Homo sapiens: one gene and its partners. The protein of the gene in region 2 interacts with the protein of the main gene of each other region in a pairwise test. Each region holds a gene or a part of one and is shown on either strand. Other genes may lie near its edges.

Region 1 (2,489 bases), on a different chromosome or scaffold from region 2:
ATGGGTGCAGAGACAGGGACTGAGCCGAGCCTGGATGGGTGCCCTCCCCCACCCCCACTCCCGTCTCCTCCAGGTCATTCAAATGGGGTGAATCGGACCCGCTGCCTTACGTGGTGTATGGCCACACAGTGCTCTCCCACATGGACCTTGTCTACGTAATTGGCGGCAAAGGCAGTGACAGGTGAGGCTGGGCCTGGAGTGAGTCTGTGGAGCAGAGGTAGAATCTCCCAGAGGCTGTCAGGGGTTTGTCCTGGCTGCCCCGGCAGGTGATTGCAGGGAGGCGTGGCTGGGCTCCTGCTTCTCTCCACCCATCCCCACCCTCCACCCCACAGGAAGTGCCTGAACAAGATGTGCGTCTATGACCCCAAGAAGTTTGAGTGGAAGGAGCTGGCACCCATGCAGACCGCCCGCTCACTCTTTGGGGCCACTGTCCATGATGGCCGCATTATCGTGGCAGCTGGGGTCACCGACACAGGGCTGACCAGTTCTGCCGAAGTGTACAGCATCACAGACAACAAGTATGAAAGCTTGTCCCTTCCGCCAAGGACAACTGCATGGCTTTGGGCTTCTGTCAGCCCCAGCAGGAGCTGCAGTCCCTGTCTTGGGTCTCCAGTGTTGACTTTGGACATCAGTATAGAAATAGGCTTTCTCTCCTGATCAGCAGTGAGGTGGGGAGGCGGGGCAAGGGTTATGGCCAGCCTGGTCTGCAGGAGGGGGCTCCCAGGGCTGGGGGAGGGGATGCCAGGTTCCTCATTCAGGGACTCATACCAGGCAATGGCCTGGTGCAAGGGATATAGCAGTGAACAAGACAGAAGCTGCCCTGCCTGGGACATCAGAAAAGAGAAAACTGAACTGAGAGACAGTTGGACTCAGCTCGCAAAAGGGGTGAGGGTGGTGGGAGGAGGTTGCCCCAGACTAAGGAAAGGTGGTGCTGAGGCAGTTTGGAGAAAAAACTCAAGGCCTATAGGAGGGAAGGTGTTGCTCCAGCTGGGTGGAGGTGGGTGGGTGATGGAGTTGGGATGGCGGTGCTGGGGCTGGAGCGGGGGCCAGCAGGAGAGGGACTGTATCTCATCTGTGTTCTACTAAAGTACTTCATGGCAACTGATATAGAGAGCAGATTAGGGATTTCCCAGGGGTCAGGAAGGTCAGGGGTGATAAAGGCCTGGAGCTGGGGGCACAGCGGAGATGGGGTTGAGGGGATGCACCGGACAAAGACAGGCCAGGGCTTCTTACACTGTGATGGGCATGCAAATCTCCTGGGGATCGCCTTAAAGTGCAGATTCTGATTCTCGGTATGCGGAGGGCTGAAAGCCTGTAAGTCTGCATTTCTAACGCACCCCCAGGAGATGCTGACGCTGCTGGGCCATGAACCACACTTTGAGTAGCAAGAGTCTAGGAGGTGGGAGAAACAGGGCTTAGCTATTGATTGGATGTGGGGGTGAGAGGGGGAGAAGTACATGCTTCTGAGTGAGGGTGGGAGGCCATTTACTGGATAATCATTGGGATTGGGTAGGGAAAGTGAGGGTCCAGTTAGGACATGTGGACTTGAAGTACCTGGGGGTGTCCAAAAGGACCCCACCCGGGAGAGAGAGGGCTGAGCTGGAGGGAGAGATCTGGGGGTCAGTAGCACACGGAGGGGCCAAGCTCCCTCAGGAGAGAGAGTGTAAATGGGAGGAGCTGAGGTCCAAGCCCTGATGGTGGAGGCAGCTGCATTATCCAGGAAGGAGGCCACGAAGGTGAGGCCGAAGAGATGGGTGAGGAAAGTCACGTCAGCAGGGCTGTGTGCTGTAGGACCTCAGTGCGTGTGCAGTGACTGTGGACCTCAGGAAGGTCAGTTTTGGAGGATGGGACTAAGGCCCAAGGCAGGAGCCAGGGTAGCGAAGATACATTGAGAACAACTGGGCTGTGAAGGGAGAAGAAGGATAGAGCAGGTGTGCAAGGTGGGTGGGGCTGCAGGGGCCGCTGAGGGGCAAAAGGACTGCGTCCAGGGCAAGGCTGGGGGCCTGCTAGGGGCTGGGGTTGTGAGTTGGAGGGTGGAGTTAGTTCAGGAGAGGAGTAGGGGCAGTGGGGAGATCCATGGTGGACTTTGCTGGACAGGTTGGATAGAATGGCAAGAGGACAAGGAAAGGAAAGTGGAGGAGCAAGAGAATGGGGAAGGAAGGGAAGACCAGAGGGACAGGGAAGGGGAATGGGGTTGGGGGCATGGGTGCCTGGGACTTGGATTGCAAAGGGTTGCAGTTGGAGCTGTGGGTGCTGGGTGGCAGGGACAGTCACTGGGCTTGCCGAGGCATCCCAATGATGCACCTTCTCACACACCCCCAGGTGGGCACCCTTCGAGGCCTTCCCACAGGAGCGTAGCTCACTCAGCCTGGTCAGCCTGGTGGGTACCCTCTATGCCATTGGTGGCTTTGCCACACTGGAGACGGAGTCTGGAGAGCTGGTTCCCACAGAGCTCAATGACATCTGGAGGTGAGTCCCACCCTGGGGAG
Region 2 (3,735 bases):
TCATAAGGAAGCATCAGACAAATCCAAACTGAGGGACATCTTAACAAAATAATTGGCCACTCTTTTTCAAAAGTGTCAGAGTCAGAAAATATTCCAGATTAGAGAAGACTTAACAATTAGATGCAATTTAGGAACCTGAACTGGATCACAGATCAGAAAAAAGACGTCATTGTGACAACAGATTAATTAACTATATGATATCAACATTAACTTGCTGATTCTGATCATTATAGTTACGTAAACCATTAACATTAGGAGCTGGGTGAAGAACACAGGAGAACTCTGCATACTATTTTTGCCACATTTTTTTCTAAGTATAAAATTATTTTGAAATAAAAAGTAAATTAAAAAAAAAAGGGGGGCAGGTGCAGTGGCTCACGCCTGTAAACCCGGCACTTTGGGAGGCTGAGGTGGGCAGATCACCCAAGGTCAGGAGTTCAAGACCAGCCTGACCAACATGGAGAGACCCTGTCTCTATTAAAAATACAAAATTAGCTGGGTGTGGTGGTGCATTCCTGTAATCCCGGCTACTCGGGAGGCTGAGGCAGGAGAAACACATGAATCTGCCCAGCACTTTGGGAGGCCGAGGCAGGTGGATCACGAGGTCAGAAGTTCAAGACCAGCCTGGCCAATACGGTGAAACCCCCGTCTCCACTAAAAATACAAAAATTAGCCAGGCATGGTGGCCCGTGTCTGTAGTCCCAGCTACTTGGGAGGCTGAGGCAAAAGGATCACTTGAACCCGGGAGGAGGAGGTTGCAGTGAGCTGAGATCACACCACTGCACTCCAGCCTGGGCGACAGAGCAAGACTCCGTCCCCCTCAACCCAAAAAAAAAAAAAACCAAAAAACTTTCCTTTGTGTTTTATACTGCATGGCCTGGAGACCTCTGCAAAGCTCCCTAAGGTCATGGGAAGGAAATCACCTACAAATTCCAAAGTGTGCTATCCCAGGGCAGCAGGCAAAGTCCCAGGCAGCAAATTCAAGCATGTGGGCACATCCTCCAGCCTCTCATCCTATCCCAGGATCTTTCCAGATAACCGCTCCCTGATACCATGGCAGAGTTCCTGGGGGGAGAGTGCACAGCACTGCAAAAAGGCAGTGCTCTTGCAGGAGAAACTACAGCAGCGAAGAGGAATGAGAGTAAATCAGCCCCGTAACAATGGTCTCTTCAGATCATCTATAGCCAAGCTATAAGACGACATCTCCAGAGGATAGGAACCATGTGTGCCCAGTCACTTGTGTGCACTGCACACCCAGCACAGGTCTGCACTTGGTAGATCCTCCCTCTAATAAATATCTGTTGGAAAGGAAAAAAGGAAGAAAGAAAAAAAATGAATGGCAAAACTGAAAAATTCATAGTGCCATTTAACTACACACTTAAAGATGTTAAGTTTTATATGTATATCTTACCACAATTTTTTTTTTTTTTTGGAGACAGAGTCTCTCTCTGTAGCCCAGGCTGGAGTGCAGTGGTGCGATCTCAGCTCACTGCAACCTCTGTCTCCTGGGTTCAAGCGATTCTCATGCCTCAGCATCCCAAGTATCTGGGACTACAGGCACGCACCATCATGCCTGGCTAATTTTTGTATTTTTATTAGAGATGGGGTTTTGCCATGTTGCCCAGGCTGGTCTCAAACTCCTGACCTCAAGCAATCCACCCACCTCAGCCTCCCAAAGTGCTGGGATCACAGGCATGAGTCACTGCATCCGACTCTTTTTTTTTTTTTTCTTTTGAGATGGAGTTTCGCTCTTCTTGCCCAGGGTGCAGTGCAATGGCACCACCTTGGCTCACCACAACCTCTGCCTCCCAGGTTCAAGCGATTCTCCTGCCTCAGCCTCCCAAGTAGCTGGGATTACAGGCATGCGCCCACCAGGCGCAGCTAATTTTTATGTTTAGTAGAGACAGGGTTTCTCCACGTTGGTCAGGCTGGTCTCAAACTTCCGACCTCAGGTGATTTGCCTGCCTCAGCCTCCCAAAGTGTTGGGATTACAGGCGTGAGCCACCACGCCCGGCCCACAATTTTTAAAAACTGAAATTCAGTACATGCCCTTGACCCTAACATCACTATATAAAACATCTTCCCCAGGTTTGGAAGACCCACCAATATGAGTGGAAAAAAACAAGGGTGTATTCTAAAAGGGAATAATTCCTTCTAGGCACTTTGAAAAGCACCCAGGAATTGAGGCAGACTACCATGCTATCATGCCAAGTGATGGTCAAGAACTAACAAGCCTATTACATCTGTGGCCAGAAGGCCTGGGGAAAGTGCAGCCTCAGGAGCCACCTTGCAGTTACACCCACAGGGTCTCAGTGTCCCTAAGCAGCAGGAAGCTGGGAGAAGGACTTCCATGCCTGAAGAAATGAGGCTGGCAACAGTGACCAGTTAGGCCCTGCTTCCAAATGTCACCCACTCCCGTTTGGTCATAGCCACTTACATCACCAGCAGCCTAACTCACATGAAATGGCTATTACTGAACAGAAATCCTGCAACCTCCATGGCAGAAACTAGGAGAACACTAACAAAATGCAGAATCTTATTACAAAACACGGCTAAACACTGGTCTGAATCCTCTATTAGAAAGTGAGCTCCTTGGCGGGTAACAATCATGGCCTGGGCACCCTTAGATCTCCAGATGGGCACAGGGCCAAGCACAGGTGGCACTTAGAAATCGTTTGTTGGGTAAACACCAGTCCTGAATTAGGAAGTGCTCATTATAGCATAGTCTGTTAGTGCATAGATGTGGATACGACCCCTGGGACCAAATCAAAACCAGAGGACTTAAATCGCCAGGTCTCGGAGACCATATTTTAGGTGCTGTCAGCCCCCAAAACATTTTGTCACAAAGGGCTTCCACCACCTGCAACATCAGAGAACATCCTTGTGGAGAAAACAGATGAAACTCTTACCCAGTGTTAGGTGAGAAGGATGAATCGAAGGTCAGCTTCAGTCCACGTGCAAGCTGAACAGAAAAGAAATTTGCCACTAGATTTAGTCACAAGGCAGGCTGGCAGATGCGAATTAATAAATCCACATCTTTTCACAGCAGCCATTACCTGATCTTCCACAGTAATCTCGGTGCCTAGTGTATTGTCGGTATTCCATTTCTCTGTAAACGTCAGGCCGTACTCAGTCCATCTGTACTTGGTTTCCAGACTGCCCGTCACTTTGGTGGTCTCAGTGTTGGCTGAGCCTGAGCTTGTAAATTCCTTCAAAGGAGAGAGAAGAGTCACAGCCTGCACCATAGCACTCACTTGGCTTCACTTCACTCCTAAACACTATACTTGCCTTTCTGCAAGAGGCAAGACCCTGAATGTGGGGGGGCCAAGGCTAACTCTACAATTCAAATAGATATTTAAAGTACAGATGGGAGTAAAGGAGCCTGCTATGTAAAGAAATCTTATGGGGAATTTGTTGTCAGCAGACAGCTTCCTTCCTCCCTGTAACTCTTCAGTCTGGACAGGAAAGCATCTCCCTTCCATCCTGGCTCCAGGGCAGTACAGAGAAAAAGCACTGAGCTAAAGCTGACACAGCGGTAATTCAAACCCAAAACTTCTTTCTTCCAACAATTACTGCACACATAATTTCAAAGGGACTACTAAGATTACTTTAAAAACACTTATGTGGTTGAATGCAGGTGAATTTGAAAATAAGAAGCACAAGGAAAACTAAAACTGAGACCTGACCCATTCTCCTCTATTACCCGCTGCTGAACTGGGGGCCTACTGGCATGGT
Region 3 (3,500 bases), on a different chromosome or scaffold from region 2:
TCCTCCTGCCATGTCCCTCTAGTACCCTCTACCTTAACAACATAGCAGCTGGTAAAGAAAAAATACTTAAAGGCTTCAGTTCCATTTTCACATAGCATGCAATGAATTTGGAGCTGAGAGGCAATAAATTGATACTGCCACAGAGTAGATATCTTTTATTGAGTTATTTCTTGACTTTCACAAATACAGAAAATAATCTAGCAATCACACACATTCAAAAGCCATCAAAAACCACTATTCCACTTGCCTCATGTGTATATACTCTGATAGGTATTCCAAAAGCTCTGGCAAGGCCAAAATCAGCCAGTTTAATTGTTCCTTTGTCATCAATCAAGAGATTTTGAGGTTTTAAGTCTCTGTGAAGAACTCTTCTAGAGTGACAAAACACAATCCCCTGTAGGATTTGGTATAAATAACTCTGGAAAAAGCAAGTAAAAGTTAGAAACTTAAGCGAAGTACATGATTTTCTAAATAATCTGTTTCAAAGACAAAAAATTAGGACGCAGAGAAATAATTTAATTACTAGAGCTTTCAGGCCATTTTAGGCTAATAAGCATTTGTGGGTGGGAAGCCCATTTATATACAACATCACATTTGTATACCTAAGAAAAGAATCTTCACCTTATAGACATATCTATAGTAATGTGAACACATTTAGTCTTTAAACATTTTTGGTCCCCGATCCTTAAATTACAAATTGGTTTTCTACACAGAAGCCTCTTGATTTTTCTTCTATATACCGCTACCAACTCTATTTTGTATCTTCAATACAGTTGGCCTTTTCTATCTTTCATTTTTACATATTCATTTCCTTCTTGAAAAAATTAGATTCTAAAAGTGATGGCAAAGATATTATGATTATATATTTCAATGGATAAAATTATCATAAAATGCTGCTTAGTTCAGAGAAAAGTGCTTTACAAGACATTTGTTGCCAAAGACAATGTCATTGACATCTGAAGTAGCATGGATATTACAAAAACAAAGTACACAGAAAAATGACTTACAGTTTGAAATTGGAAAGTAATACAGATGCTCCATCTTAGAGGGACAAGTGGTGTTCAAAAAACAAAACAAAACGGATGATCCATCTGGTTAAACTCATTCTAAGCTGAAAATACCTTGTCGAAATGCATTGAACACACCTAACCTACCAAACGTAGCTAAGCGTAGCCCACCTTAATTGTGCTCAAAACACTTACATTAGCATATAGTTGGAAGTGTTGAATACCTCATTATTTATTGAATACTGTACTGAAAGTGAAAAAACAGAATGGTTGTATGGGTAAATGAAGTATGGTTTCTAGTGAATGTGCATCATTTCTGCTTCATTGTAAAACTGAAAAATTGTAAGTAAAACCATTGTTGCCTGTACATAAAACCAGTTAGAACAACTGGCTAGCCATTTGGAAAAAGATAAAGCAGAATCTGTATCCCAGTTTTTAAGTCAAAATAAATCTTAATACAGAATTTAAGACAAAAAAAGTATGTGTGGAAGACAGGACTTACTAAAACTACCAGAAAAATACTGACATGTATTATTCTAATACATTCGATCTTTGAGTGAGGAAGACTTAAGCAAGACATAAAAGCAGAAAGTCCAAAAGTCATGCAAGATTGTTAAAGAACGTATCCTAACGAAAATATAGGCGGTTTATAATAGCTAAATATGAAGTGTTAAATTGTCATGAAATATAAAATTAAAACAATCTTAATATGCCTTTTTCACATAGTTAACAGATTGATAAAACCAAGTTTTGGCAATGATGTACTAAAACAATAAGTATTACACACCATGAGTATTTAAGAGTAAATTGCTACAAGTTTTTTAGGGGGCAACCGGCAATATCTATCAAAATGTAAATAAACATCTTCAATCCATCATTCCCATTCTAAAAATTTATCCTATAAAGTTGCATACGAAGATAAATATCTATAAGGACATTCAGTGCAGTACTGTTAATAAGAGCAACAATAACCAAGTTGGAAAATAATTTAAATGTTCATCAATATGGAAGTGGTTTAATTATATCAAAAATGTAAATAGACATAGGTAGATCTACGTCTTGATAATGTTTTACACAAAAAAGGGAAAATATGTATATATACATATGCAAATAAGTCCACCTTGTGTAAAAAAAAAAATCTTTATATACATACAAAGTGAACATACATACAAGTGTAAGATTACAAATAAAACTAACAGCGCTACCTCTGCAGAGTGGTTTGGTAGAACTGGTGCAAGAATAAGACACTTTTATATACTTCAGTACTTAAAACTATACAATTTTATAATTTACCTGAAATATAATAAATGTCTACAATAAATTGACCAAAACATGTTCAAAACTGGAATAAAACACCTACAACCACCACTCTGCCCTAGGCTTTCATTACTTTGTTTTACATGTATCTGACAGCCAAAGAAAGACCAGACTACCCTAGCTTCCAACAATACCTACCAGTTCTATGTTATCTCAGGCACTAATTTTTACTTACTAGAAACACTATCTGGTAATAACATGGGTATCTCTAACCTGTATAAACTAACCATGAGGGAGAAAAATGAAATACTTTTTCTTATTCTAACACTTTTTCCAAGCATATTCCCACAAAATGCAGGGACTTCTATATATAGTCCCTTTATATCCACAGTGCATAAATATTAATAAAATTAGTTAAGCTTTTACCTTAACAAGTGAAGAATCCATGTACTGACCAGGAGGGATAGAATCCAAGTATTTCTTCAGATCCATGGAAAGAAACTCAAAGATGAGATATAACCTGGAATCCTGCATAAGCACATCCTGAAGACTGGGGAAAAAAAATATATGAGAGAAGAATCCAGCAAACATTTTTGACCTCTGTTTCACAAAATAAAACTCCTTCCATAATTTCAGTTGCTATAATAAAAACTGGGGAAGACGTAGTAGCTTCCCTAATGGAAGAGACTCAAAACTCAAATTTAAGAAAGGAATCTCAGGGCAACTATTTAAAATTAAGCCTTGTACAGGAGGTGCTTATTTATAAGGAGCCTGTATTCAAAAGAACATATCTAGGTTGGCTACTAATTGCTGAGAGCTTATTTTTTCACTGAAGTGAATTATACAAATAAATTTTAAAGTGGTATCTGACCTTAAAAGCTACTTCCAATCTCTAGCCCCAGCCAAGTACAATTAGATTTTAACTTGGACTGTTAGGAAGACAGGTCTCCAAAAACACCCAATGCAAATACTTTAAGGAAAAAAAATCTTTTTCATTTGACCTAGCTACTTTTCTTAAGACTCTAACTAAAGGGTCTTCAGGAACTAGAGCTCCCCAAGTAGGAGAGAGTTGACAAAGCTCTATGAAAACGGCTTTACTCCCATGGCCAATTTACCTTGCTATTCTAGGCCCAAATATTAATCTACATCACCCAGCTCCTCCAACTCTGTTCCTGCTTTAACAGCCTGTTCTCTTTTACATATGTGCGGCATTCTCAACTACCAAAAATAGGGTTC

What was found.
Region 1: the proteins of VDAC1 (region 2) and KLHL40 interact in a two-hybrid assay, tested with the Homo sapiens proteins (one large-scale study listed by BioGRID).
Region 3: the proteins of VDAC1 (region 2) and CDK1 interact in binary tests that used the Homo sapiens proteins (3 or more experiments, as listed by UniProt).

What each region holds. Positions count from the first base shown.
Region 1 is NC_000003.12:42,688,537-42,691,025, forward strand, and holds part of KLHL40 (kelch-like protein 40), read left to right. Parts: intron 1-73; coding exon 74-181; intron 182-332; coding exon 333-518; intron 519-2,322; coding exon 2,323-2,469; intron 2,470-2,489. UniProt on the Homo sapiens protein: Substrate-specific adapter of a BCR (BTB-CUL3-RBX1) E3 ubiquitin ligase complex that acts as a key regulator of skeletal muscle development.
Region 2 is NC_000005.10:133,987,946-133,991,680, forward strand, and holds part of VDAC1 (non-selective voltage-gated ion channel VDAC1), read right to left. Parts: intron 3,210-3,735; coding exon 3,057-3,209; intron 2,963-3,056; coding exon 2,910-2,962; intron 1,299-2,909; coding exon of another isoform or gene 1,190-1,298; exon of another isoform or gene 1-1,189. UniProt on the Homo sapiens protein: Non-selective voltage-gated ion channel that mediates the transport of anions and cations through the mitochondrion outer membrane and plasma membrane.
Region 3 is NC_000010.11:60,784,978-60,788,477, reverse strand, and holds part of CDK1 (cyclin-dependent kinase 1), read right to left. Parts: intron 2,815-3,500; coding exon 2,691-2,814; coding exon of another isoform or gene 2,679-2,690; exon of another isoform or gene 1,409-2,678; intron 419-1,408; coding exon 248-418; intron 1-247. UniProt on the Homo sapiens protein: Plays a key role in the control of the eukaryotic cell cycle by modulating the centrosome cycle as well as mitotic onset; promotes G2-M transition via association with multiple interphase cyclins.